Homo sapiens: one gene and its partner. The protein of the gene in region 1 interacts with the protein of each later gene in a pairwise test. Each region holds a gene or a part of one and is shown in the gene's direction. Other genes may lie near its edges.

Region 1 (15,611 bases):
TGTCTCAAAAAAAAAAAAAAAAAAAAAAGAGTAAACAAGGAGGACTTGTTTTACTTGTAGTATGACTACAGCCATTCCCCAACTTAAAAATGTTTGTTTGCTCATACCAGATATTTGGAGCTCAGACTGCATGTTCCTTGGTGGTTAAGTCCGCAAGCCAGTTGTGATATGGTGAAATATATATTTGGCCTTGGTCCTCATTTCCTGGCATACAACTCCTAAAATCCTTGGAATCTTCAAAATGATGTGTCTTTTGGTATGCTAATGAGTTGACTGGTGGCCGGCAGCCCAAGGTAGCTTCAGAATGGGGGCTGGTCACAGGAAAGACCAAGTTGTAATTACAGAATTGGGACTCTCAGCCTCACCCCCCTACCTCCAGGAAGGGGAGAGGGGCTGAAGGTTAAATTGATATCAATGGCCAATGACTTACCCAATCATGCCAATATAATGAAACTTTCATAAAAACCCAAAAGGACTGGGTTTGAGAGCTTCTGGATGGCATGCCCAGAGAGGACATGGAAGTTTCGCCCTCCTTCTTCCATATTTTGCCCTATCCAACTCTTCATCTGGTGTTCATTGGTATCCTTTGTAATATCCTTAATAATAAACTAGTAAATGTAAGTAACCTGAGTTCTGTGAGCTACTCTAGCAAATTAATTGAACCTGAGGAGGGGGTCATGGGCATACTGATTTATAGCTGATTAGTCAGAAGTACAGGTGAAACAACCTGGGGCTTTTGATTGGCATCTGAAGTGGAGGAAAGTATCATAGGACTGAATCCTCAACTTGTGGGATCTGATACTGTCTCTAGGTAGATAGTGTGGACACTGAATTGAATTAGGACACCCTACTGGTGTCTACTGAAGAATTGGTTGATTCCTAGGTGTGTGGGGAAAACTCTCATACATCTGGTGTCAGAAGTGTTCTGTGTTGTGAAAGCATAGCAGGAAAAACTGAGAGTTTCTTTCCTATATCCCCAGACTAGTTCTTAAAACCATATGTGCTGGAACTCTGTTATAACACCAGCAATCTACAAAGTGTAACAGTTTTCTTAGAAATTTCAGCCTGGGTTCTACATGGAACGCCTGGGGTACATTTTCCCCAATGCTAGTAGTTCAAACACTGAGTTCTACTCCATCCCTCCCACTTACCACTCCTGGGCTAGCTTGGAGGATGCCACTAGCTTTTTGGTAACAGCACTGGGTGTGTGTTAAAGGAAAAGGAGCTCTCTGTTGGGTGAGTATTGAGAAATTTAGACATGGGACAATGACAGCAAGGCAAGGCAAACAGACAGGAGGCTGGGGTGGAATAAAGGAGGGTAGGCACTCAGCTTTGGAGGCTCTGGAAATTGGGGATGGCAGGGCAATGGTAGATGTTGCTGTTTGAAAGTAGGAAGCTTTCATAAGCCAGTTATTCTTAGGCCAGGCATTGCCTATATTAATTCTCCAATAGACTCTTGTCATACAACATCTGAGCACAGCTCTCAAACTTGGTTGTCCTATGACCTCTCCAGGCACTGACATTGAAACCGCCTTTGCAAAAATTATAACTGAGGAAATTACGACAGTGAAAGAAATCAGACCTAATTGACTCCGTCTTGCTTCTAACCTTTAAGCTGTCCTTGTTCATTCCTGGGCATAGGCTGAACTAACTTTGGGAAGGAATTCAGTTCATGGTTTGACTCTGAAACAAAATTGAAAATAGCCCTTTCTGGAAAAGACCCCCTTCTTGCCTGGGGACCAGTCTACCTTTGCAGGACTAACAAATTAGCTATAAGATTAGAAATTACAGTTTATGGGTCATGTAGCCTCTGGCTCCAAGAGACTGAGCCTCCCCAAATTGCTTCTGGGGATAACATCACTGTTGTACAACCTAAGATCAGTGTTTGAGATAGTTTGCAGACCCTGCACTGGGTGGATCAGCTGACACCACCTAGACTGGTAATCTGGCTCAACCAGTTCTGCCATCCCACCCAGGAACAGAAGACAGCAAGAAAACCTGACTTCCACCCCCTGTGATTCCATCTCCAACCTGACCAATCAGCACTCCCCACTTCCCAAGCCCCTACCCGCCAAATTATCTTTTAAAACTCCAATCCCCAAATGCTTGGCAAGACTGATTTGAGTAATAAAAAATCTCCAGTCTCCCTCACAGCCAGCTCTGTGTGAATTACTCTTTCTCCACTGCAATTCCCCTGTCTTGATAAATGGGCTCTGTCTAGGCAGCAGGCAAAGTGAACCCACTGGGTGGTTACAACACGCCCACCTATGTCTCTTGATAGGCCCTATTGGCAGGATTGAACTTAGCCTAGATTTTTACAGCTGCTCATCTGCTCCCACTCTTGTCCTCCTTCATTCTTTGCACAGTGACCAAAAATAGTCTTTCTGAAATGCAAACCTGATCATTCTATACCCTTAGTAAAATCTTTAATGATTTCCCACCCTTCTCAGGATCAAGGTCACAATCTGAACCCAGACCTGTCTGACTGGCCCTTGCATGAGCTGCTCCTCACCATCTTCCCTGACTCATGCTCATTCTTGAGGTCTCAGCTGACATGCCATTTTCAGGAAGAGCCTCCTGACCTTCTTGCCCAGATTTGGTCCCCTGCTATATGCTCTTGTAACTCCCAGACTTAATCTTCAGAGCACTGACTGCCGTGGTAACTGTTTAGGTATTCAGGTATGGTTTGTTTGATTTATTTAACGTATCTCTCCTCTACGAGGCAATAAAATCCAGAAGCACGTTAACCACACCTAGCATGGGGCTTCCTGGTCCATAAGACATGCTTATTAAAGGGTTGCCCAATGAACCTTTGTGTCTATTATAAACCTGTGGTTCTCCAATTTTAGGGAGCAGTCATTAGTTTTTACTATGCGACATGCAGTGCTAGTTTAGAGAGCAAGGTATGTTAGCTTTGTGGTTAAAAATTAGGGCTCCGAGCCAGAATTTCCTGGGTTTGAAATCTACTATTTGTGTGGTATCAAGGAGGTAGTATGATGTCTCCATTACTCAGTTCCTTCATCTGTAAAAAGGGCAGGGGGATGGTGGACGATAATAGCACCTACTTCATAGGACTGTTGTGATGACTAAGTTGGTTTGATGTGTGAAGTGTTTAGAAGTGTCTGGCACATGGTAAGTATGTGAAAGATGTTAACCTATTCTTATTTACTCCAAATACTGTACAAAATAGATGTGTTCTTATCCCCACTTGTCATATGAAAAAACTGGATGCATAAAATAGACTTTCTTCAATAACTTGTCTAAATGAATCCTTCATATTATCTTTTCATGCTAAAAAAAAATTTAAAAGGAAAAAAGAAATGAACATTCTCACATTTTTGAGAGTTGGGACTTGGAGGCTTTGGGGGTTTGGCAAGTTGAAGACAATAAATCAAAGAAACTAAGGAAGTTTCAAAGCAGTTTCAGGCCGGGGACTGCGCCATCCCCCCTGCACTTTCATATAACAAAACTCAGCATGTTCGTGAGAAGCCCAGAGCGGGGAGGAGAGACACATTTTCCATCGAATCTGTAGTGGAGATGGGGAGCCGCTGGAGCATGACTCAGAGCAGCAGGAACTAGCATCTCCAGGTTGCTGCAGGAAGTGAGAACAGTGGCTCCTAACCAGTGCCCAAGCGCCTCAGGAACTCTGCCAGTGTCTCCAAAGGCATGGCCGTGTCCTCAAATCAAAGTCATTTGATTTCTTTTTTTAAATCTATGCTATGCATCCCCTTTGAGAGGAAGTGAGTGCCAAAGGATACCAAACAGAAAGACTGAGTCACTGGAGTGGCCAATCTTCCTGGAGAGAGATGAGTCCTGCATCAGGCTTCTAAAAAGACATCTGGCAGGGACAAGAATATTCCTGGCAGCCCATTTGTAATGGCTCCAAACTAGAAACAATCCAATGTCTGTGTTAAGTAGAACAGACATCTAAATGGTGGTATATTCACAGAATGAAACCCTATCCAGCAATGAGAGCGAATGAGCCACAGCTACACTCAACAATAGGGACGAATCCCATGAATATACTATCGAGGCAAAGAAACCAAATGAAGTGCAAGCCAATGCCATTTTCATGTAAATTCAAAACCAGGTAATGTGCATCCATGTCAGGTGCTGGAAGTCAGGGCACCTGAGAGGAGGTAGTGACAGGAGGGGCTTGGGGGGCCTCTGTCCTCTTTCTTAATCTGAGGGCTGGCTACTCAGATATGTTCCTTTTGTGAAGTTCCCTGACCGGTACACTTACGTTTTGTGTACTTTTCTGAAGAATATGTTCTATTCCAAACCTTTCTCCATTTTCTCCTACGCTGCTACCTCCATGACCTGAAGTCAAGTTAGTCTGGGAGTCAACAGATAACCCCAGAGTCTGTGTCATTGGAAGCTGGTGCCATACAAATTAGGACGCTTCAGAGGCAGGACGCCATTTTGAGTAGAGCACCTATTTCTGTGGTGCTGGTTCTGAGGGTTAGGGTCACAGCACTGTCCTCACCTAGGTTTCTCTCCTGTCCTCCTATCTCGTCCCAGGGGTGGGCAGCTCCTCTCTCTACTCAAGTGATCTCTATGATACGCTGTGCAACATGGGGCTTTCCTGAGGGGTGAGAGCCAAGGCCATATGCCATTCCTGCTCATGCGTCTCAGTTGGATCCTTCACTTTTAGTCAGGATCCAGATAGGCCAGGACAGAGTTAGAGCTCCAGTGGACTGATCAGAAATCTGTCCTGCCAAACCTAATGGGAGGGTTAGGAATTTCTGCTCCTGACACCCAGTGGGTGGTTTCACAAGTTTTAGAGGGTGACTGTTCAGGTGACTGGCAGCACAAGGAAAGAGGGAAAAGCCTTTTCTGTGAATTTCACAGGCAGGGTTGCAACGCGGTGTGAGCATGGAGCAGCTTGGCACAAGGCAGCCTTGAGAGTCCCCTGGCTGGCTGCGGGGATGATGTCAGATCCCGACTGGATGCTGCCCCATTCAGTCAAAGCCGTGCAGCCTGAAATGGCACATGTCCCCATCCAGGCTGTCTGGGCGGGTCAGCTGGCCTGGAGACAACAACACAGCCTCAACGTGACAGTCCCCACATTCTGCAGACTTAAAAGGGAAATCCTTTGGATTCTGCCTGGACTCCTGGGGCTCAGCCCTGGCCTTGCCTTGAGGGTGCAAAGAGGAGTAAAAATATGGGAAGGCCTGTGTGCAGCTGCAATGGATTCTTCAAGTGATCAGAGGCGGTTTCCTGCCTGTGAGGAGTTGGTACCATGAGCGTCTTGTTCCTTGGGTCCCTCCTTTCCTCTGCTGCTGATGCCCCGCACACCTTGCCCCCTCCCTATTGCTTCTCCTCACCCCACCTCACTCCCAAGGACGTCTGCTTTTTTATTGTGAATTTCAGCTGCCTGCTTGTTTCACCTCCGGTTACTCAAAGGTTTGCCCCAGTGTTTCTCCCCCTTTAAAAGACTCCATTCCTAGGCCTTCCTGCTCCATTCCCTCATGCCCTTCCCTGGCTTTCTCAGATTTTCATTTTCATTTCCCTTCCCATTTCTACAAAGGCAGGATGTAGAGGAAGGCCAGCAGAGGGCAAAGAGCCCGAGAGCCGGGATCAGGAGACAGGAACGTGTTGGCGTGTGGCTCTAAGCGAACCAAAGAGACTGTCTCTGGTCATCCGTGTTCCCCACTGTTGGTGAGGCTGGGTCACCCAGGCCAGAACTCAGTGCCATGGGTTGTGCCAGTGTTGGTGCTGTGGCGGATGCAAGGAATGGGACTCTGCTCTGGCTTGTGCACACCTACCGAGTAACAAAATCTTCATGTCTCTCTCTGATACATGCACACATATTCAGATAACTAGATAGACAGGGAGATAGATAGATATATGGATAGATTAGATAGATAGATGATAGATAGATAGATAGATAGATAGATGATAGATAGACAGATAGATGATAGAAAAATATCTGTCAGAATAAAAACATAATCCTATAGGCCAATAAGGACTCAATCAAAATCTTACAGGGTCACTGAATCAGAATCATTCTTCCCCTGAACTCACTTTCATGACTCTTTGCAATCAGGTGTATCTGTCCACCCCATTTTTTTCACAGTTGGGTGAAATGAGGAAGTAGTGTAAGGCTGGTTTTTCTTTTGCTGCCACAAAGGTCTACATAACTGCTGGTTCCTGTTCACAGTGAAAATGGTCCTAACCAGATGAATAAGGGACACAAGAGACATAACACAAATCAGAGAAGTTAAAACCAAGCTTATTCCTAAGTGCAACTAGCCTAAGCAAGCTCATGCCTGCCTGCTGAAGCCCCAAGTCTTCTACCTTGATAAAGGTTACTCCCTCCATTTTAACTGCTCCTGCCTCCCCTATCTTTTTTCGAACACCATGGCTGATTTATCTAAACCCTATGCTGCTTCACAGTATTTTGAAAACAAATTAGAAATCTCCTTCCAGTTTTCCAGAGGTGATTAAATCCAAGACGCCTTAGGAATGTAGAGGATAGAATAATATAAACAACAGATCTGAGATAACCATGGCCGGCAGCAGTTGTGGTTAGTTGCTTCTTTTCCTTTTTCATCCATCAGTGATGGAAGCTGGATTGGGTCCACTGTATAAAGTTCGGTGGGCATAAATCTGCTATTTGATCCTGGAAAAACTCTAAGGATCTAGAGTCAGCGAGGAATTGCAGCAATGCTGGTGTTTCAAAGGGCCTAAGAAAAGCCAGGAGTCCTGGCTGCCCAGCCCCGACACTGTCTTACAGGCTGCAGGTTTACCTTGGTTAGCACAACAGGCCAAGCTCTCCCTTGCTCTAAGTCGACATGACATGATTTGTTCCCTTTCGGCTGTGTCAGTTCTGCAAACCAGATACCAGAGGCTGCAGGCTCAGGAGAGCCTGCCTGTCTGGAACACCGTTTGTTTGGACAGGACAGGCCACTAAGGCGTTTCATCTCTTTAAAGCTCCCAGGGCAGAGAACATATTTGAGGAATTCCTTTTTTCAAAGATTTTTTTTTTTTGCCCCTTCCAACATTTTGTTTAAGAGAAAATGAGATGTCTATCTTCTGTTTCCTTATTTTTTTTCAGGAAAGCAAAGGGTTGTTGACTTCCTCCCTCTCCCCTCCCTTCCTTCCTTCTTCCCGAAGGTACTCATCTGAGAAAAAGAGAACGAAGTATTGTTCCTGTTCTCTTTCTTAAGTCATTCGAAACACTGTCCCTGCGAGTTCTTTAAGTTCCCTGCAATCTGTACACAAGAGAAAGAGGGAGAGAGAGAGGGAGAGAGACAGAGAGAGCAGGGATCAGGTAAAGGAGTGGGGCTGCTGCAGCCATTCAGACCTCAGGAGCTGGTAAGTTACCCATGCAATCATTTCTGCTTCCTTTTCAAGGTTCCTGGGTGGATACTGCTGTGGGCATCTTCAACAGAAAATACCTTACTGGGAGTAGTCCTTAACCAAAGGGTATAAGTGATAGATGGCCCAGAATTTCAGCTAATACTTTTTTTTGGTAAGAGAATACTGATGCTTTGCAGAACTAAGGCTGGCAAAACTAGAAATAGAATTACATTGGGACTAAAGAGGACACTGCGTTAAATCTGAATTTTGGCACAGATCATGTGGCTGGGAGAACCAGGAGCCACTGGCGTGTGAGATGTGTCCCACTGGAGAATTTGCTCTTCCTCAGTACTGTGTCCTGGGAGCCTTATCAGGGTGTCTGTTAAGGACTGTGGTTTGCTCTGGGGTTTTTGTTAATACGTTACCTGGATTGAGGTGCCCTTCTCCTGTTCTTTTCTTTCCATTCAGCATCCCCCTAAAGGAGGATTGTTAATTGTTATATGATGGTTATTCTGCATCACTGAAGTAGAAGGGAAAGAGAGAAGGGAATGTCACTTGGAAATAGTTCTGCATGTGGGGAGCTTATGTGTTCAGGTTCCCCATGCGGGTTGAGTGTAAATTTATTATTCACTGTCAGTGGAAGATGTCATCTGCCACATGATAGAAGGCAAAGGTTTTGGGGCATATAGCTTTAGTTTTGGAAAACAATATGCAGCTAGAATGGGAGGATTAAGATGGATCATTTATGTCAGTAGGAGGGAAAAACTAAGTTACAGACGCAATTGAAAAGCATTCACCCAGTGCCTGGTTTTCCAAGCACCAAATAGGGCGTAGCAAGCTAGTCAAGCTAACATACACAACTAGTTTTTAAAAGTCTAACTTGCTTCAATTAGATTAGTCATAAAGGATAATGTTACCAGCACCTATCATCGCAAGCCATGAGGGAGCCGAAATCATGTTGTCAAAAATAGGTCAGCAAGGTCACTCCGAGAGACTCGTTATGTTTCCCAATATTAATACTTTAATTCAGAGAGATGCCGAATGGGTAAAAGCCAATGGCCAAGCATACTTTTTAAAAATATTCACTGCTATGAAATTTACTGATTGAAATCACCTGGGATGTGAAGAATAAGATAAAAATAGCTGGACTCTCATTTTAAAAATTAATTTGGCTAGACTATGCTTTAACCACATTCAAGTAATTAATCTTTATTCAAAATTGAACCATCATCTTACTAAGGATGAGAAAACATGACAGAACTAGACTGTGATGTAGCTTTTGTTCCATTAGTCAGACCTCTTTTTTCTTCTCCTTTTTTCAAGGATTTTCTTTAGGAGCATCATAAAACGAGCAATGTAAAGAGACGTGAATAGCGTTTGCCAGCTTGCGGATGCAAAATTATTCTAATAACAATTGAAAGTGTTTTACTGCTACCCTACCACCTCCCCTAACTACTCCATTTCCATAGATCTTCAGATCAAGAGGTAGCTGGAATAGATTGTCGAGGGCATTATTGCATCATTTATCAGCAACTGTGGCCCCAGAAGAAAACGCAGGTCTGCGATCTTGACTTGCTCCTTTCAGTTTCATTTCTCTTGATAATGTATTGAATTTTGTGCTCAACTAAAACAACATCACAGAACACATTCTAGTTTTGTTTACTGAGTAAAAGCATCAGATGCAACACAATAGGAAACAAATGACAGCAGAGTCATTTGTTAAAGACAAGGAAGGCAATTAAATTAAAGACAAGGAAAGCACAAGGTGGGTAGGCCAGTGGCTCAGAAAACAGCCCCACTGCTAGCATGACTATGGCTTGAGATTAAGAAGCTGAGGATATGCAGTTTTCTTTTAAAGAAAAAAGTGTATTCAATATTTCCATTTAAGTTGTTAAGTCATTGCTGTGAAAATATTTCTTGGATACTGGGGGAAATGAATTTTAGCTACCCGAAGAATAAAAGCCATCGACTAGTTTCATCGAAGTCACTACCACTCAATCTATCTTTACTCACTCACCGCCAAAGAGTGAGTTGGCATTTGTGGAAACTTCCAGTGTGTGATTATTTGGGGGTCATCAGAGGCTCTTTTGTGATATCATTGGGGGAATTCCAGTTTGAAGTGATCCAGAATTTGAGACACACAGTATTTTATTCGTTAATTTCTGCCAAAACTGTACACATAACTAAATTACAATTTCTTATACACATTTTAAATTATGTTAGGATGTGTGTCCTGTAGATCTGTGTGCTGGGATGTGAGTCAAATTAGAGTGAGTAGAGCACAGTCTCTGTTGTTGTACTACTTTTGGTTTGAATTTCAGCTTCGTTGCCTACTGTTTATGGGCCTCGGGGCAGGTACTTAACTGCTCTAAATCTCAGTGTCCCCAAATGTAAAATTGCGTCAACATAATGGAGTTGTGAGAATTAAATACAACTATCGGCATAAAACACTTAACATAATGTTTGGCAAGTAGTAGGAGTCAATCAGTGTCAGTTATATATTTTTTAAGGGTCATATATTAACACTGAAGAGTACTGTATTTTGTTAATACAGAGAACAGAATGAGTCTCCTATAATTTGTGTCATTATTCTTGCTTAATACTATACCAAGGATCTATCAGAGCAGATATTATTCCTCACAGCTTTAGAGTTGGGCACACACTGAGTGAAGATATTCTAAATTCTAAATTCTTATAAAATAAAAGAGTGTAGAGTTTAATGTATTGATATTCATCTTCACGAATGGCAGAAATGGCAGATTTAGCTTCACTGAATGCAGCTGTATTCAACACAGCTCAATGCAGGGGAAAGTTTGTCTCGGGATAAAAGTTTTCAACTTAGATGAACGTGCAAAGAGAGTTCAGTTATATTGTGGACATTTTATTCTCCCTTTCACCCACTTCCCCAACTGCTTGAGCTCTGTGTTATTGGTGACCTTTTCCCTGGTTGTGGAGGGCTGGAGACACTTTTTTTGGAGACCATCGTGGTTGTACCATGACTCAGCTAAAGAGGAAAGGACTTAAAGTGACACATTCTCCTCCTGCCCAGGGCTGAGCACACTTGGGGTTCTCTCTCCTCAAACATTGTAACAGTGAGCCACTCACCTTCACACAGAGAAACAGAACACTATATATCACCATGGGTGTGCGTGTGTGTGTGCATGCACGCGTGTGTGCGCGCGCATGTGTGTGTGCGTGCGTGTGTGCGTGCGTGTGTGCATGTGTGTGTGTGGTGCCTGATTGATCCAACTGCTATTTTTCTTTCACTCTAAACTTTAAAACCTGTATGACCGTTAGTTTGTCAAGTAATAATGATACTTTTACTTAGGTCTTAGTTAAATTTCTCTCCACTTTCCAAAAGCAAAACACACAACAGCAAGAATAACAAAAAATCTACCACCAATAACCAAAGCCATTCAGGTCCTTTTGTTAGACTGAGAGCTTGTGAAACAACAGAGACATGTTTGGACACTTAACCTTAGGGACAAATCGAAGCTGAGTTGTTCTGCACTAACGTGCAAAAGGTGCCCTCTCATGTGGCTTGGTGGAGTAGAAAAAGACCAGATTGGGAGTCAGAACACTGCTGTTCTCATCCAATCTCTGCATTTCCTATATGCATGACTTGACAGGTTGCTTTACTTGCTTGGATCTCAATTTTCTCATCTGTGAAATGACAAAATGGGATAAATAAGTAATTTTCGAGGTGTGCGTGTGTGTGTGTGTGTGTGTGTGTGTATTAGAATTCACCTACGGGCTTGTTTATAGTCTCCTCCTGCCCTGTCCACTTCATGGGATGATCTGTGAGACCCTTTTGCTGACATGCTGTGATTCTCCAAAACAGATGGTCAGTGTCTTGCTCCGTCTTCTTCTGGATGGCATTAACATTAACTGTAAATGCTCGTTTTAAGAGCCATGCTTTTAAATGGAATTCCTATTCAGCACTGGATGTTCTCTCTAGAAGATAGTTCTGAGTATATCAAATGTTATTTTAGAAGCTATTAGTATTATGGAATAAGGAATGTCCTAGCCGGTTGAGCAATCTGATGATAATGATCAGTGTTCTAGAACCATATGTAAATCACAAGATCAATTACTTAGATCTGTAAACATTATAAATCAATATAAATAGCACTTTTTTTTTGAGACAGAGTCAGGCTCTGTCACCCAGGCTAGAGTACAGTGGCACAATCTTGGCTCACTGCAACCTCCGCCTCCCAGGTTCAAGTGATTCTCCTGTCTCAGCCTCCCGAGTAGCTGCGATCACAGCTGCCCGCCACCACGCCTGGCTAATTTTTTGTATTTTTAGTAGAGATGGGGATTCACCATGTTGGTCACACTGGTCTCGAACTCCTGACCTCAAGTGATCCACCTGCCTTGGCCTCCCAAAATGCTGGGATTACAGGCATGAGCTACTGCGCCCGGTGGAATAGCACTTTTTGATTTATCCATTTCTATATTATTTGCATCTTAGAGTGAGCATGTATTTGTTAATCAAGAAAAACACAGATACTAAGCTTTTTCTATTCCCTTTAAAAAATATTAGTAGATTCTATCTCATAAGGTTTTGTTTCTTATTTTTTTACAACGTGTGCTGTGATGAGCCTATTTTACAAGTTAGATCCTTGTCCCTAATTTAATGGTGATGTAGAAAGGCAAAAAGATTGATAATGGTGTTTGAAAAATCAGCATTCACAGGTCATATTGTATGCTTCAATTATAAGGAAAATATAAACCTTATAGAAAAAGTTGTTCTAAATTTCCTGATTGAGTTTTTACCTAAATCACTCATTTTTTTCTTATATGTTTATATGGATAATGAAATAAAGCAGCAATGGACACAGATCTCCCTCTGACAGGAACATAGAGACAGCAAATAATTTTAATGTGCACCCTCAGAAACAACTAGCCTAATGAAGGCTGTTCTTTTAGACTATTCAAAAACCAAATACATTTACATAAAACAATGGTATTTACATAAAAGAATAAGAACATGTCTTCATCCAGCGTTATGTGTAATACATAAGTTCACAAGAAAGGAAGCAGCATGAGGACAGGGACTTTGTTTTGTCCACTGCTGTCTGCCCAGGGCCTACAATAGCACAGAGCCTGTCATAGATGCACAATAAATATTTGTTAAATAGATGAGTTAATGAATCAGTGGGCTGTAGAATGAAAGATGCTATCTTTATACAATGCCAAATGAAGCCATTAATTTGAAAAAAAAAAGTTAGTCAAACTTTTCTGGAGTCTAGACAATGCCAAACTGCCAGCTTGATGGATTTATCCCTCACCTGAATTGACTGGAACTATATGGGCTTGTTCTGCTGTTGTGTGCATGGGGCTGCTACATGTGTATTAAAATGTCGTCTTGGCAAGCACCCCCACCCATTTGTTCATGGGAAATTAACATTTATCAGATAGATACACAGAAAAGACTGTTGTTGCATTTTATTTTCCATTTATTTTCTGGGCAGATGATGGGTTTGCAAATTGTTTTTGGCGAGACAGAGAACGGTCATTTGTTTTTCCTTGACTAAAAGAGCTGTGAGCCAGGATCCAGCCTTGTAGGAAGTGTTCAGCTCTCTGGTTTGTTATAGGCAAAGGCTGTGAATCCAAGCTAAAGGAATGCCACTTGGGCTGAATTGACAAAACACCATGGGGTAAATTCAGGGAGAGAAATGTGATACCCTTGTTGAGCACAATACCCTTTCCTTTCTTTAATTCAAGCCAATTGAAGAAGGCCAAAACCACTGGATCGAGTCAGTTTTATACTTATTTGGCAAATTTAAAGTGGCAAATCTAAACACCTAGTAACAAAAGTTGGGATTTTGGATGATGCTTTTTACATTTAACAACATTGGGGTTCTAGGTGTCTGTTAATTGGAGTAGAAACTGAAAAGGCACTCTCTATTAACATTGATAGAATCTCTCTTTAGTGTCAAGTACCAGGGCACACAAAGAGAATACTGGGCAATTCTCCTATATTCCTTTGATAGATTATGGCCCCACTCTGACCTCATTCTTTGATGGCCACTGATACTAAATGGGAGAGTGATTTACCAACAACGGCACTGCCACCACCAGCGCCAACAATTATGGAGGAGTCATTACTAGGTTTGGGGCCTCCTCAGAACTTTAGATACTTCATTTCACTTACCCCATTCTCAAGTACGTGCCTTATTCTCCTCATCTTAGAGCTGAAGAAAGGCAACCACCTTGTTTAACAGATAAACTACAGAAAGTACGTGATTTGCTCAAGGTCAGTAAATTAATGTTGCTTGTTTTCAGTTTCCTTATAAGGAAAAAGTGTCATCTGTAGCTAATAATTTCTTTAAAACAAATATGTATCCTTTAAGGTAGTAGCCTTCAAATGGGGTCCAAAGACCAACACCATGGCACCACCTAGGAGCTTGTTAGAAATGCAGAATAAATCCCAGCTCCACTGCAGATCAACTGAATCAGAATCAGCATTTTAACAAGATCTCCAAGTGACCAGTTGCACATTCAAGTCTGAGCAGCACTGCCTTATGGTTTTGGACTGTTGCACACAGATTGATCAGGGAATGTAGGACTCTATTCCAAGGAGTTACAAAGCCATTTGTTAACTTTGACCTTGTCCAAGACAACATACCTCCCTATTAAATAGTGGCATTACTGGACAAGTCTCCAATCTATTCAGCTCTGAGCAACAGTAGGCATGATTTCTGTGATCTCTCCCATGAAGTTAACTCCATATCATGGGATCCTAGCACTCTCAGAAAGGGCGAGGGTATTATTTTCAGGTGCTTTCTGAGCACCAATCATCAGAGTTACCTGGGGCAGATTTCTAGGCCTTTCCCCAGATCTAACAAAGCTGAAGAGGGGACCAAGGCTCTGCTTATTATTCAAGCTGCTGGCTCAGGGTAAGGAAGCCCCCAGGGAGGGTAGTGATGAGTATTTCAGGCAGATTACCCTAAAAAATAGTTTAGCTTTTTTCAGTAGCTTGAAAAAAACATTTAAAACCATAGTGCACACATTAGGGCACCGCAGAGTTCTTCCAGGAAGAAAACGTACTCTGCCGCTTTCTTCCTTTGAATGCTTGAGAATAAGGATGAGAAATCTTGCTGTCTGCCCTGTGTCTTCCTCAGGGAGAAAGGGAGGACCCGCTTCTCCAGCATCACAGCCAAAGAGGAGACGCCAGTCCACACGCCTCCCTCTTCCCAGTGAGAAAACTCTGTGGAAAGAATCCTTAGAGTTTCCTTTGCACTGGGGACTCACCGTTCTCTCTTGGAACAGAAATCAAGAGGAGACTATTGTTGGAGGGGTGGGGGAAGGAAGCAGCGCCGGAAGAGAGCGAGGGAGAGGACCGGAATCGCCTCTGGTTTGCTGAAGCCTGGACAAAATGGGGCCTCTGCCTGGATGGAGCCCATGGCATCTCTCCCGTGACTGAGGCCCTCTGGCCACCTTCCATGGAAAGTGCAGGGAGATGAGGAATTTCAGGTTTTCAGCGCTGTTTAATGGAACGCCTACCTCCATAGTGTCCACCACTTGTTTCTTGCTGTTTTTCTAGTTCAGGCATTTTCTTTCCCACGACACGGTGGAATTTCCTCCTCTCACCCCTACTTCCAGAGAACTTTTTCAGTTGTTTTTTTCTTTTTTAAGTACAAAGAAGGGTCTTCTAGCATTATCCTAAAAAATCTATATATTGAACATTTTTAGGGTACCAAAGAGTTCTATGCTTAATCTATAAAGGCGGGGTTGGTGACAGAGCGAGACTCCGTCTCAAAAAAAAAAAAAAAAAAAAAAAGGCAGGATTCCTGAAGTGCTAGAATTTGAATTCTTAGGGTGAGGAATATGTGAAAAGTTCTGAAAGGTTGCTGGCAGGCATATCCAGAATCTCACCTCCTACCTGGCTTTTCAGAGATCTGGGCAAGGAGGGACTATTCCCAGCATCGTCTTTCTTGATATTCAGGAAACAATCAGTGATGCAGCAGGCAAGCAGGCGTTTCCTCCAACATGGTCTGCAGCCCTCCTAGCACCCAGTGATTTCATGGCACAATCACCTGTCTCTGGCTGGGGAGAAGTCTCCAGGGGCAGAGAGTTCTTCTGGTGGCAGCCTGGGCCTCAGATCTAAATGGGGATGTTTGTGAAGGAATAGAGACACCAGTTTTGTGGGTAACAAAGTTCTGCTCAAAACTGCATCATTTTGCAGAAGGCAGTCCCATTCCATGTGTCTTCACATCCTCCATATGTTCAGACACATCCCACTATTTAGAATGACTGACATTGACTCTTTTCCCCCTTGAGTCTCCTAGGAGAGAAATTTC
Region 2 (15,527 bases), on another chromosome or scaffold:
ATTTTTACTATCTATGGCTTCATAAACAATTTACTGTTGATATAGGGACAGAATATGGATTATTATCCTAGATTATACAGGTTGAGTGAGTCTCCCTTATCCAAAATGCTTGGGACCAAAAGTGGTTTTTTATTATTTTATTTTATTTTATTTTGTTTTATTTTTTTATTTCAAGGAGTTTTTTTTTTTTTTTTTGGATTTTGGGATATTTGCATTATACTTACCAGTTGAGCATCCCAGCTCTGAAAATCTGAAGTCTGAAATGCTCCAATGATCATTTCCTTTGGTAGGAATGTCAGTGCTCAAAAAGTTTGCAGGCTTTGGAGCATTTTAGATTTTGTATTTTTGGTTTTGGGATACTCAACCGGTATGAGGGTGAGCCACATGAAATTTGTTTTTTTATGGTTCAAAATTGGTAGAACTACCAGCAATTTCATATGGTTCCATTTTACTGATTTTGTAAGTAAAGGTGTTGCTGGAGCTGAGTGGACTCGGGCAGGCCTGTGGCTTTCTAGTAAGGTTGATTGGGTTAGGTTCTGGACAGTGGTGCTTAGTGGGAGACTGAAAGTACTCTGTGTGCAGTTGTCCTGGGGCATGAGCACGTTCCCGGAGACTGAGCCCCAGGCCTAAAGGATATGCTGTGCTCTTTCTGCTGTTTGCTCTCCCTGCCCATGGACCAGGCATTCATAGTCTTCTTATTTTTTTCCTCTTACCTGTAAAGAAGAAAATTTTGCTCTAGACTACTTTAAAAGAGGAAAGAGGTCTTGTGGAAGAGAAGATAAAAATCAGTGCATCCGAAGGTTGCATTTTCCTGGTGCTTCCCAGTAGCTTGAAGCAGTCATAGCTAGAAGAAGTGCAATTTCAGTAGGACCCAGTTATGCTGAGGAGGTGGAGACTGAATTGTCACTTTTGCTGCAGACCAAGGAGCTTTTGAATAAGCTTGTGAATGCCCAGGCAGTGGAATGAGCATGTCTGATGTTGGTGTGATGGAGGCTGAGCTGTTCTCTCTTTACATCCTTTTACGCCATGCCCTGGGATGGAGGCTGTTCTTATGGAGCTTATTCTTTGTTCAGGGATGGGATGTTCCCAGATTGTTCTCCTAACCACTAGGGATCAGGGCAAGTTTTGAGGTAGGGTCTGCTGAAATTGGCTGAGCACAGAAATCCCAGAGAACACATCCCCTCTTCTCCCTACCCAGCTCTGGGTACCATTGTGCCAAGTCATCCATTACCACACTCAGATTCTACAGTTCCAATGTTTGGGAACTTGAGGCCACTGGTCCTATTGTAATTTGGGCCTCTTTGTCACTCTATGTCAACACTCAATACATAAAGCCCATTACTGTCAGTCCTGTTTCATGAACACTGCTTTATGCCTCCCTGACATCCCATCTTGGACCTTTTAGGAGGGTTCAGGGGCTTTCCTGAACCTCCTTCTATGCTAAATGTTCAAACATCCTTAAGGTATTCACTGAATGTTCCTTTGTCCTATTGGTTCTCCCCTGAGGATCCCTCTCCTATTTCTTCCCTGTAATGGATAATTCTTCCTTTCCAGGGACTATAGATTTTGAAGGTAGAGCTCAGAATTTAGCTCCCCAGGTCTGCTTCAGAGCTATTATTTTTCTTCCCTCCTATAACACCTTTCCTTAGCTGAGGCTTATATCATCCCATGATACAATATACACCCTTGCTTTGCCACTGTCATATAGTGGCTGACCATTCATTTCTCCATGTTACCAGTGTCTTCCTCTCCACATTGAGTCTTACCTTCATCTGTGCTGACCTCAGCGGCCGTGTGGACAACTGGTCCAGCCCTATGTCATGGTTCCTTTGCTATGTACTGGGTGGCCTCTACCTCATTAGGTGTTGAAAACCCAACTCAAATCTTGTCTTCCTAGCACTCTTGGTTGCTCATTCTCCTGGTACTTCCATTGGATTTCATTACATCCTCTTTATGCCTCTAGGTTTTCCTGGTAGGTCTGCCCTCTTGTGACCACAGCCAGCAGTTGATCCTTTGGGCCTGCCTATCCTTTTCCCACATCTGCTTGGAAAAGCCTCAGTCCAGGATATAGGCTAAAATCTCTTTCTCTGTCCCTATACAGGGTCTTCTGAGAAAATAATCAGGACTTCATTTACTTAGTCTGACAGTATGTATCAAGGATCCTACTGTGTGTGAAGCACATAAGAAAAACCAACAAGAACACCAGCCCTTTTGTGCACATGCGTTTGACAGTCACCTTCCTGACACCCTTCCTCAGTTCCCCAATGCAGGAAATACAAACTAGTATTCCTTCTGTAGCTCTCTTTCTTTCTCTCAACATCAGCTATCTCAGACAAAAATGGAGGCAGATTAATTAAAGAGGCTGTGAGAAGAAAGGGATAACAGATGTCCATATGTAGTTTAACTGTAAATGTGATTGTTAAGCTCATAAATTTGTGGTGTGTGGGAAGATCAGTATCAGCCACTACCTTGTCATCTCATCTGACACCTGCGTCTAGATGGAAATCATCTCAGAACAGATTGTACATTATAATTAAAAAACAAAAAACATTCTGTGTAGATTTGCTGGGCCAAAATCTCATCCTGGCACAACTGGAGTTTCTGCTACAGTTGATTCAAATACACGTATAAATGATTATTTTAAATTTCTTTTTAAAGGAAGCATAAACAGCAGATTCTTCCATGTAGGATATGACATATGGGTCCTGCAGGGTAACTTTAATAATTGTCATCCTACCATTGTGGCTTAACTGAGTTATACTTTCTGTTCTTTTCCAATTTCTCTTCCTGACCTGGATAGAAATTGAGGAAATTAAACCACTCCTGCCTCACCTGTTTTACTCTGGCTGGGTATAGTCAATTAGGAAATACAAAAGTCTTGTTTTATTCATGTACATTCTCATTATTTAAGCTCTGAACCTTGGTTTCTTTACATTTTTTAAATAAGAAGAGGGAAAACCATCTGGACAAGGAAGTTTTTACACCTAGATTGAAACCTTCTTCAATTTTCCTATACTAACTCTAATGCAAGTGAATCTCAGTCAGAGCTTTAAGAAATACCTACCACATCATGTGGGTCCATGAGTTCTTGTGATGCCAGAAGAAGCTGTGCACAGTAGACTTCTACCTTATTGATAGATTATACTACTAATACAGTGAAATTATAATATAAAATAGATATTAAGATCACAAGGACAGTGTTAATAACTAGCAACTATTATGTCCTTACTATGTGTCAGGCACTCTCTTAGGTAAGTTGTAATTTGATCATTTATTCTTCACAAAAACCCTGGGAGGGAGGTGTAGCATTCTTACTTTATAAATGAAAAAAAAAAAAAAAAAAAAAGAAATGCAAATAATTTGTCCAGGTTCACACAAGCAGTCCATGGCCATGCCAGGATTTAAATCCAGATCTGTCTCAAATCCTGTGACCATAACCTCTTCGCATACTGCTCCACCTTGAGTGAGTTCAAAGTCAAGCTGAAAAAAAATGTTCTTGGCAAAGAGATGGGTAAGATTGGGTTTTTCAAAATTCTGGAATGTTCCTGCCTCTTGTTGGTGTTTCATGGGCAGCAAACCTGGCCCTTCAAAGTTCTAGAATGTTCCTGACTCTTGTTGGTGTTTCATGGGCAGCAAAACTGGCCCTTTTTATCTCAGCTGTAGATCCTTGAAGGTCAGTTCACTTTGGGGTAGCTGGAGTTGTGTTTACAGAGTCAGGCCTCACCGTGAGAGGGCTCCTGTATTAGTCCCTTTTCATGCTGCTTATAGAGACATACCTGAGACTGGGCAATTTGCAGAGAAAGGTTTTCTTGGACTTACAGTTAGTTCCACGTGGCTGGGGAAGCCTCACAATCATGGCGGAAGGCAAGGAAGGGCAAGTCCCATCTTACATGGATGGCAGCAGGCAAAGAGAGAATGAGGAAGATGCAAAAGCGGAAACCCCTGATGTAACCATCAGATCTTATGAGATTTATTCACTACCATGGAACAGTATGGGGGAAACTGCCCCCATGATTCAATTATCTCCCACTAGGTTTCTCCCACAATACATGGGAATTATGGGAGTACAATTCAAGATGAGATTTGGGTGGGGACACAGAGCCAAACTGTATCAGCTCCTGAGGTGTGGCCCATCCTGGGGGCCCCTGTGAGGCCTACAGGAATCACTGCAAGCCCAATGCTTACTCTGTTCTGCACTCCTGGTGTAGAGGAGACTGGGAATTAGACCTAAGTATAAAGGCTCTGTCATTTCTAACAGACTCTCAGGAACCACACTTATAAACTGTAATGCTAGAGTCAGTCATCTTTAGTAAAGTTTTGGTGAAGGCTGAGGGCTCTCTGAACCCATCTTAACTAATACTCTGTTGTCCTTTTCTTGTTGCAGGACAGCAAGGCCTATGTGACCATTCTCTAAAATATTTAAGCTCGAGAATCACAGAGCGGAAGCTGCAAGGCTCCTGGCTGCCTGCCAGCCGAGGGAATCTGGAGAAACCATTCCTGGGGCCGCGTGGCCCCGTCGTGCCCTTGTTCTGCCCTCGGAATGGCCTTCACTCAGCACATCCTGAGAACAGCCCTCTGAAGCCCAGGGTCGTGACCGTAGTGAAGCTGGGTGGGCAGCGCCCCCGAAAGATCACTCTGCTCCTCAACAGGCGATCAGTGCAGACGTTCGAGCAGCTCTTAGCTGACATCTCAGAAGCCTTGGGCTCTCCCAGATGGAAGAATGACCGTGTGAGGAAACTGTTTAACCTCAAGGGCAGGGAAATCAGGAGCGTCTCTGATTTCTTCAGGGAAGGGGATGCTTTCATAGCTATGGGCAAAGAACCACTGACACTGAAGAGCATTCAGGTGGCTGTAGAAGAACTGTACCCCAACAAAGCCCGGGCCCTGACACTGGCCCAGCACAGCCGTGCCCCTTCTCCAAGGCTGAGGAGCAGGCTGTTTAGCAAGGCTCTGAAAGGAGACCACCGCTGTGGGGAGACCGAGACCCCCAAGAGCTGCAGCGAAGTTGCAGGATGCAAGGCAGCCATGAGGCACCAGGGGAAGATCCCCGAGGAGCTTTCACTAGATGACAGAGCGAGGACCCAGAAGAAGTGGGGGAGGGGGAAATGGGAGCCAGAACCCAGTAGCAAGCCCCCCAGGGAAGCCACTCTGGAAGAGAGGCACGCAAGGGGAGAGAAGCATCTTGGGGTGGAGATTGAAAAGACCTCGGGTGAAATTATCAGATGCGAGAAGTGCAAGAGAGAGAGGGAGCTCCAGCAGAGCCTGGAGCGTGAGAGGCTTTCTCTGGGGACCAGTGAGCTGGATATGGGGAAGGGCCCAATGTATGATGTGGAGAAGCTGGTGAGGACCAGAAGCTGCAGGAGGTCTCCCGAGGCAAATCCTGCAAGTGGGGAGGAAGGGTGGAAGGGTGACAGCCACAGGAGCAGCCCCAGGAATCCCACTCAAGAGCTGAGGAGACCCAGCAAGAGCATGGACAAGAAAGAGGACAGAGGCCCAGAGGATCAAGAAAGCCATGCTCAGGGAGCAGCCAAGGCCAAGAAGGACCTTGTGGAAGTTCTTCCTGTCACAGAGGAGGGGCTGAGGGAGGTGAAGAAGGACACCAGGCCCATGAGCAGGAGCAAACATGGTGGCTGGCTCCTGAGAGAGCACCAGGCGGGCTTTGAGAAGCTCCGCAGGACCCGAGGAGAAGAGAAGGAGGCAGAGAAGGAGAAAAAGCCATGTATGTCTGGAGGCAGAAGGATGACTCTCAGAGATGACCAACCTGCAAAGCTAGAAAAGGAGCCCAAGACGAGGCCAGAAGAGAACAAGCCAGAGCGGCCCAGCGGTCGGAAGCCACGGCCCATGGGCATCATTGCCGCCAATGTGGAAAAGCATTATGAGACTGGCCGGGTCATTGGGGATGGGAACTTTGCTGTCGTGAAGGAGTGCAGACACCGCGAGACCAGGCAGGCCTATGCGATGAAGATCATTGACAAGTCCAGACTCAAGGGCAAGGAGGACATGGTGGACAGTGAGATCTTGATCATCCAGAGCCTCTCTCACCCCAACATCGTGAAATTGCATGAAGTCTACGAAACAGACATGGAAATCTACCTGATCCTGGAGTACGTGCAGGGAGGAGACCTTTTTGACGCCATCATAGAAAGTGTGAAGTTCCCGGAGCCCGATGCTGCCCTCATGATCATGGACTTATGCAAAGCCCTCGTCCACATGCACGACAAGAGCATTGTCCACCGGGACCTCAAGCCGGAAAACCTTTTGGTAAGCCTTGACTTTTGATGATATGGGAGAGGGTGTTTTTAGAATATGGGATAAAATTGATATTAATTGTTTTATACTCTGTCACCTTTACACACTAGAATTTTACTTTTATGTTATTATAACATACTTGTTCCAGTATTTAAAACTATGGTTATAGGTCATAAGTTGCTGAGATAAATTAGTTTTGATTAACTTACAGAAAAAGAAACCTTCCAATTTAAATAAAATGGAAAATGTCTCTTCATCTCTGGGAGAAAAATGCTTTTGTCTTGATAGTGACTACGTGGACTTAATTTCTTGGCACTTAGGTACTGGGATGCCTACTGATGGCAGCTTCCCCTCGAGGCTTTGTGTGCATCATCCACCCTCCCACTGAGATGCCACTTTGGTCTTTTTGAAGATAATGCTTTGCTAAGCAGCTCAAAAGGTGAAAAGGTGCAGCACTGTAAGGGTCTGTGTAAGGAGTGCCGATGAGGCTGGCTCTGTGGTCAGATAACTTGGGTTTGAATCCTGGCTTTCTTAGTTGCTTGCTCTTAGATAAGTCCTTTATCTTGCTGGACCTTAGTTTCATCATTTTGTAAAAGAGAGATGGTAATGGTGCCTGTTTTGGAAGGATGCCTGCAGTTTGAGTATGGGAAAAAGAAAAGCAACCCTTGACAGCTGGGAGCTGGCCTGACACCCTTATCTCAGCTATGCCATTCTTCTGTTGAGCATAAGCAATTTCACAGATCACAACATCAGATAAGGCCACTCTGACCATAATGGATCAAGACAAAAGCAAAACCCCTTTATACTGATGTCCAAATGCAGATAAAAATAAGAATATTGTCCAAACCACATATAAGGTCACATGTCCCCTTTGTGGCTGCTGTGAGTGACTGACTGCGTTGCTTCATCCTTCCTACCTTCATGTAAGAATTATTAAGATACCTGATTATAGAATTACCCCCACGTGCTGACACTATCCAGCCCAGAGCAAAACCCTGCTTTCATGAATCCTCCCCCAAAATCATCTAACACAGCCCACATATTATCATGAGTCCTTTAAACACTCTCTTACTTTGATTCCCAGATTCCAACAGTACGTGTTCTCCCTTATGACAATGAGTCGGTAAACTTAGTGTGTTTGAGTACAAGTGTGTGCCAGGAGGTCTTTGTCAGGATGACACTGTCACCCTCTGGCACGTTCACCCACTTTCTTCTTTATCGCCCCAATCACCACTTGATAGAGTCTATATTTGCCTTTCTGTCTCCCTCCTCTTATTGGAGAGAAAGTTCCATGACAGCATGGACTTTGTTTCATTCAGATTGTGCTCCCAAACCTAGAACAGTTCTGTCACTTGGTCGACATTTAATACATGTGAGTTGTATGAATGCCTAAAGGCCATACCATGCTGCCTGGGAAACAGCAAGAACTCCATCAGTGGCAGAGACTATCACTATTATTACATTAAAAACAACCCTGATATCAAGGTGAGTATCATGAGTAAGCATTCAAAGTCACATCATTGCAGACAAAGCAATAGTGAATGAGCACAGTGATTTTGATGGGCCATATTTTGGCAGGAAGCTGGGAAGGTGGGGGAAGGGATTTACACTGTTTTCTTTAATTTCCATGGCTGTAAACTCAGCCTGGGGACACCATCCCAGTTGCATTTGCCTGTCTGTAAACTGGTCTCACAAGCAGGTGAAACACTGAGTGAGTCAAGCTAATTATCCAGTGAAATGAGGTCTACATTGACCACTAAGTCGAGCAACCTTGTTTTTGTGTTTTTGTCCTAACTCATAGAATTACAGAAGCAGTTTGACTGGTTGGATGAGGGGTCTGAATTACCATCAAATAACTCTCTTTGAACAATTTCATTTTTTGCATTAGCTGGATGTCTTTTTCCTTTCTCTACTCGCTTTTTGATTCTTCCCGTCTTTTGGGTCTGAGCCCAGATGTCTTCCATGTGCAATGTACTGTACACTCTTTATTATGGACACTTTGCAATTGCAACAGAGCAGTGTTCTTTAACAACTCTCTGCTTCTTTCACCGAATTGTCTAAGCAGGAGAGATCCCTTTCGAGGCCTGAGGAGGTCCCACGAGCTGAACATTTCAGTCATGTGCCTACTATAGCATTAAAACAGTTATACAAGTTCTCAGCTATGTGGAATGAGATGATTTTCTTTTGGAGACAGTTAGCTTAGTTTGCATTTTCTAACAAGATCCTGGAACCAGTTGGTTGAGTCCACCCATCTCTTGGGCAATAGAAGCTCTCATTTGTGTGAAGGGATTTATCAGTTATTTTTGAGATGGAGAAAGTCAGCACTGTTATAGATCACATGGAGGGTGGTTTGAGGAAGTAGGAAAACAGCAAGGAATATGTTTAATATGGACAAGCTACTTGCCTCTGGGTAGTTCTTCATGGTTTAAATGTCAGTACATGCATGTTTTAGTGCTCTGGGGCAATGGAATTGTGTGTGTGTGAGAGAGAGAGAGAGACAGAGAGAGAAAGAGAGGGAGAGAAGGCAAACTACAGAGTGGTTATAATTTTTTCAGCCTAAATGCATGAGCTTTTGTTTATTGGAATTGATCCCAATTGATATGTAGACCCTTTCTTTTTTGTGATTTTGAAGAAAGTCCATATATATATGTGTATATGTGTATACATACATATATATGTATATAGTCCATATATATATATTTCAAATAAAATAACTTTTTTTGTGGTGGTATGGCTTCTTCAGAAACTGTAGAAAGCTGCATATTTGAGCCATCTTATGTGGAATAGGTTAATATATTTGTTTTCCTGTGGATAATTTGTCAGCTTGCATTTATCAAAGTGGACAGGTCTGGCACATTTATAAAACATGTTTATCCTTTTTCTGGGTGAGTAAAGTTTAACATATTGTTATGTCAGAAGTCTAAATGCTATCTGATGTCAGCGCTTTTTGGTTTTTCAGACAGAGGTAGAGATAATGTTGGATTGACAGTTGACTCATTGTCTGGGTTTAGCAAGGTGTTATCTCTAAAGTTGCTGATATAATTACATTGCAAATTTGTTTGGCCTTCTAAGATTTAAAATATTCATAAATATCACATTGGTGACTGCTGTCCATAAGTTGGTGTTCTTCAGTTGCCTTTAATTTAATGTTTTACACTTGTGATAAGCTTTATATTGTCAAACTAATTGTTTCTTCCTTTAATGGATGGCTGCTGTGTCCATTAAGACCTGTCTTTGTTAAGCTTCGGGAAGTGATTATGTCAGAACTAACTTTTGATTACATGGCTGATTGTAAGTGTTGCTGCTTTTAGAGACTATCTGTATGTGCTAAAAGCTCCTAATGAATATAGTAAGCTTTCATGTTTTAATCAACAGAAATATTTATATCTGATAATTGTGCCCTAGAGTAAAATTTTAGGCCTATATTCCTGAGTTTATCTATTTCTACTGATTACATTTCCTGATAAGATGATGGTGCTCTTCTTCCCTTAGGGTTATTTAGACTCCTGAGATCTTACAAAAGAAGTTTTAATTATAAGAATTTCCAGCTTGCAGAAATACCAGTGTTAATTGCTGCTTCTGCCAGTGTGTGCTCCTTGGAGGAGTTGGAATATGCTGGGTGGTGTTGGCTGGGCTCTGGGGAAGGAAGTGGGGAAGCAAACAGGAGCTGGAGTAGTGATGATGATGATTAGACCAGCTCACAGAGGGTGGAAGGGCAAAGGCCAGGTTATTTATAGCTGATGGCTGAGAGATTATATCCAGCAAAGAAAGCTGGGTGAGCAGGATGGGGGAAGGGACTGAAGAGGTGTCAGACATGAACATTGAGCACGGTCATTTGAGAACATTTCTTCCAGAATAAGGGGAAGAGAAGGATGTGTTCCTGCACTGGAAACAGAGTGGAAAGGAATGAGCAGGGTGGGCATGCTGCTACACCTCCACTAGCATATAGGATGTTCATGTCTCCAATTCTGCTACTGCCCCCAGACTAGCTGTTACAGCCCTGGAGTGCTGGGAGCAGAGATCCCTGAAATCCAGGAGAGATGGTGGTGGTGATGGTGGGAACAGGTCTCAGCTTGGTCAAGGACAAAGGTTGTACCCTCTTTCTGGCCTCCTGCTGGTTCTAGGAAGAAACGGGCTTGTCTGTATATTTACTGGTGAATATGACTAGGACAGGGCAGTGACTGGTGTCCCTAAGGGTGGCAGGGAAAATCCAGAAGGATAAAGAGTAGCCGGCCACACTTCCTGCTCATTCTCCCTTTACCATGAACCTGTTCAATCACTTTCTTGGTCTGAATTCTGTAAGTTCTTTTTCTCTTCTATTTTGCTATACAAGAAGGAGTCACTGATTATTGCTATGGTAGTCACTGGTTCTGCAATGCATAATTCTCCTTGATCAGCAAGATTTCTCTTCTAACAGCTTCATTTTCAATCTCCTTTCCCTTAGCTTCCAAGACAGAGGTATTCATGTCTTCTCATTAATAGTCCAAGTATTCATGAATGCATTTATACCCCAATCACATTAATTTAAAAAACTAGTAACAACTATGAAGTATACTTAAGCTCTACTTAATAAAATAAATAAATGTGAATTTCAGCAATAACATGAAATTACCAAAGAAAAAGTACAGTGACACAAGTCTTTAGGTCATTGGCCAATTTTGATCGAGTCAGTGAGAATGCTGTTATGTAAGAGATTGAACTCCTCTGGAGAACTGCGGGGTATATTCTTGTCAGAAATCATTGCAGTTATGACTGTAGGTTTACATTGGTAAGACAGGCTCTCAGTATCCATTTCAGCAATTTCCAGGACAATAATAGTATCTGTACACTCAGTGAACTTATGTATTTCCAGGGTTTGGCCACATAGGCAGAGGTTACAGGAAATTTCTCAAAGTCTTCAAAATTATAGATACTGGATCATCTTGAGGACTGAGGTTTTCTTTCCTCTGTAAGTTACTTTCGAAACATCCACCTAAAAGGATAGGCGTCTAATAAGTTACTGTCTGTAGTAAATTTTCAGCAACAAAAACAATTTTAAAGCATGGTTCCTATTTATCAACTTGGTGGATATCTTCTAAAACTGTGACCTCATTTCATCAAGGAGGCCTGAAGTTCAGGTCATTTGGTAAATGAACATAACAGCACCTTCCTTTAGTCCGCTTAATCCCTGTGTTCATGTATGTTATCACCTGTCTAAAAGAGTATATTCTTGTGAGCCATTTGAGGGTCTAAGATTAACTTTCTTAAAAGTCTTTAAGGGCATTCGGAAAATGCTCTTAAGCTAAGGAAACAGCTTAGTAAATCTCAAGTTTCTGAGGTCTCAGGTCTAGTTGTCTAATTGCAACAGAAACCCTCAGGTTCTGGTTCATCTTGTGGAAGTCCCACATGTTAGGGTTTATGTGAGGGGAGGGAGAAAAGAAGGAGTGAGGAGTCCGCAGCCATGGTCCCAGCAAGAGATGATGGTGGCTTGGTCTTGGGGACCGCAGTAAAGATGGGGAGAAGTGGTCATCCTAAGGGTAAAGACAAGACTTGTGAGTGGATTGAATGCTGTGGATGAGGAAAGAGAAGACTCAAGGGTAACAGATGTTTATGACCTGAAGCTGGATCAGTCGTGGCCCCATCTTTCTAATGGAGGAGGGTGGTTTCTGTGTAGTTATGGGGATAAGAGACTGACTGAGTTAGGATAGAATGGAAGGTGGAATACTGTAGACAGTGTGTATAGACACCTCTTTCAAGGGTGTGTGTGTGTGTGTGTGTGTGTGTGTGTGCACGCACGAAGGAGATCATAGAATGGACAGTAGCTAAAGAGGGATGCAGAGAAAATAAGGGTTGTCTTTTTTTTAAGTTGGGAGATATGACAGCATCTTTATGTGATGATGGAGCCATTCTCTGGGTTGGGGAACTGTGGGAGAGAAGCAGGGTCGAGGTGAAATCAGTTTCCGGCATGTTGAATTTGAGATGATCATCTGATTGGATGACTAGGTGGTGAAGTAAAGTGTACTGTGAAATATGAGGCTATCAAGTTCAGGAAACACCTACAGTCCAAAGTCCATTCCTTCATCAGCTGGGCTGGCCACCTCTGACCAGACACTGGGTTAAAAAGACAGTGCATTACAGTGACTTCTTTGCTCAGAGCTGCCATTAGCTTCCCTTCGCATTCACATTCAGAATAAAAGCCAAGGTCATTTCCATGGCCTGGAAGGTCTTATATGATGTGGACTCCATCTTCCTCTCAAAGCCACTCTCCAGCCATTCAGCTCCTCACTCGCCCTGCTCCTGCCCCTGCTTGCTACATCAAACCATGCATGCCCCTCGGCCTTCACATTTGCTGTTTCTTCTACCTGAAAACTTGCTCCTCACATCTTAATATGGCTCACCCTTGCCTTCTTTCAGATGTTGCTTCCTCAGTGAGTCCTTCCTTAACCACCTTATTAAAAAAAAAAGAACTCCTGCCACTGTGCCAGCATTGCCAGTAGAATTTTCTGTGATGATGGAGATACAGATTTCCTGTATCTGCATAGCCCAATGTGGTAGTCTCTAGCCACATGGGCAGTTCCTCCTGTCTAAGGAACTGCATTTTAAGTTTCATGTAAAAACCAATAGCCATGTGTACTTAGTGGATACTGTACTAGACAACGCAGCCCTTATCCCACTTTTACTTTTTCATAACGCTTATCACTGCCTGAGATTACATATTTATTTGAATATTGTTCATTAATAGAAAGGAGGCTTCATAAGAAAAAGAACTTTGTCTGTTTCCTTCACTACTTTATTCTTAATATTTCAAACACTGCCTGGCAGATGGTAAGTGTGTAAATATTTGTTGAATGAACATGAGATTTTAATTAAGTAGAAATAAGCAGATGCAATAAACAGACACCAAAAGCATCTTATCTTGTGAGCATGCCATGTGACAAGTCCCAGGGAAGACTTTGTCCTCACTGATTTTTTTTTTCAGTCATACTTTTGTATTATGGTATGTTTATGTGTTTGTGTGTGTGTGTGTGTGTGTGTGTGTGTGTGTGTATATATGGTGTATGTACATATATTTTGAGACAGTCTGACTCTGTCACCCAGGCTGGGTGCAGTGGTGTGATCTCAGCTCACTGCAACCTCCGCCTTCCAGACTCCCCCCACCTTAGCCTCCCAAGTAGCTGGGACCACAGGTATAAACCACCACACGTGGCTAATATTTTGGTATTTTTTGTAGAGATGAGGTTTCGCCATGTTGTGTAGGCTCACTTCAAACTCCTGGACTCAAGTGATCCACCTGCCTTGGCCTCCCAAAGTGCTGGAATTACAGGCCTGAGCCACTGCACCTGGCCTGTGTTATGGTATATTTTGCTGTCGTTGAAATATAAACGGATTTTAGGTATTGGCATTTTAATGTGAATTGGTTTCTAAGATCATTTCATTCTTCACAGCCAGTTGAAAATGGACCTTGGAGGGAAAAAGTACGAGAAACCATGAAGGATCAAGTAAGAAGGTGGCAAAGATAAATAAACTTTATCCATGTCTTAATCCTTAAGGGAGCCACTTGTTGTTTGGTCTGTACTCTGCTTCCATCTTCTGTTCAGAGATGAGAATTGCAAGATCACATTTAAATTGAGGTACCATTGAAGGAGAGAGCAGAGTTAATTGTTCAGAAAAATAAAGATTCTTCTTGAAGCTTTCAGATTATCCAGATGCTATCTGAATGCCTACGTAAATAATGTAGACCACTTGAATTCCAAGCATGACACTTTGGTGTGGCTGGAAAAGGATGATAGATGCAGACAGATAACAGTCATTACAGTGCCATGTAAAGCAACCTCTTACACCCTTTCAGTTAGGGAACAACCGAAAATGAGCCCCAGCAAGAACATGGCCCAGAGCAGCGAGTTTAGCTAGGCTGCAAAAGAGATACAGGGAGATGTGGGGTGAGGGCAAAGTGAGATGTGTGTAAAGGGGGCTTTTGTACCCCCCCCCCCCACACACACACACAACCCGGGAAAACCCTGAAAGGTTTTCTCAGGCAGGGACACTGAAGTGGGTCATTTGATGGGGTCTTTGGCTGTCTTGATGACCACCCAGTGCCTGGTCAGCCGAGAGTCCTGAGGTCCTCTGCTCTGATCGAATCACACCTGGTGTGTGGCGTTTGGTGCTGGGCATTCTTGGTTAAGAAAGGCATCATGGGGGCCATCCAGAACTTTACTGTGGACACAGACCTCTCTGAGGTTGTGAGGAAATGCAGATTCTGTTTCAGGGGCTCTGGGGCAGCTGAGAGCTGTAACCAGCTCACAGGAGATGCTGATGGTGCTGGTCCAGGGTCCAGGGGCTGCACTTGGAATAGGGATGAGTGAGGGAGGGTGACCAGGAGAACAGGTCCTGTAAGGATTCACCAGAGCATCCTTGGTTGTTGTATTAGCCAGAGTTCTCTAGAGAGACAGAACCAATAGGATATATGTTTATAGAGATGTATGAGAGGGGATTTATTAGGGGACTTGGCTCACATGATTATGGAGACTGAGGAGTCCCATGACTGGCTGTCCACAAGCTGGAGACCCTGGGATACCAGTAGCGTGGCTCAGCCCAAGTCTGAAGGCCTGAGAACCCAGGGGTTACTGGTATAAGTCTTGGAGCCCAAAGGCTAGAAAGCCTGCAGTTCTGATGTCCCAGGAGGAGGGGGAGGAGGGAGTGCAGAGAGAGAGAGACAGAGAGACACCAATTGCCTTTTCCCTACTTTCGTTCTATCCAAGCCCCCAGCCGGCTGGATGCTGCTCATCCATATTGAGGGCAGATCTTCTGCACTTGGTCCACCTGGATTCACACACCAATCTCCTCTGGAAATACCTAACAGACACCGTCCCCCCACCCCCCACCAATGATACTTTATCAGTACTAGGTATTCCTTAATCCAGTCAAGTTGTCATCTAAAATTAATCATCACAGATGCTAGCTTGGAGAAGCCAGAGGCGAGCTGGGGATCACGATACTTGCTTCCCGTCTTTGGAGGGATGCGTTCTTATTCAGCATCACTGGAGAGGGCAGATTTAGAAAACAGGAGTGGGAAAGGAATTCTGAATCAACATAGGGGTGAATCTCCTCACAAGCTAAGCTTGCCATAAATGGGATGCACTACAGCACAGAGTTGTGGAGTCTTTTCCATTTTGAGATTTCATTCAGACATGAACGATAGTCTGGTGGGAGGATGTTTGAGACACGTTTTTTGTTTGGGTGGAGGTTTGAGTTTGATGGTATCAGATGTCCCACAGATTCTGGGAAGAAGAATTATTCTA

The links.
Region 2: the proteins of ZNF366 (region 1) and DCLK3 interact in a two-hybrid assay, tested with the Homo sapiens proteins (one study listed by IntAct).

Annotation. Positions count from the first base shown.
Region 1 is NC_000005.10:72,498,960-72,514,570, reverse strand, and holds the start of ZNF366 (zinc finger protein 366), read left to right. Parts: upstream 1-7,160; 5' UTR 7,161-7,320; intron 7,321-15,611. UniProt on the Homo sapiens protein: Has transcriptional repression activity. Acts as a corepressor of ESR1; the function seems to involve CTBP1 and histone deacetylases.
Region 2 is NC_000003.12:36,727,942-36,743,468, reverse strand, and holds part of DCLK3 (serine/threonine-protein kinase DCLK3), read left to right. Parts: intron 1-3,607; exon of another isoform or gene 3,608-3,673; intron 3,674-4,384; coding exon 4,385-6,261; intron 6,262-15,527.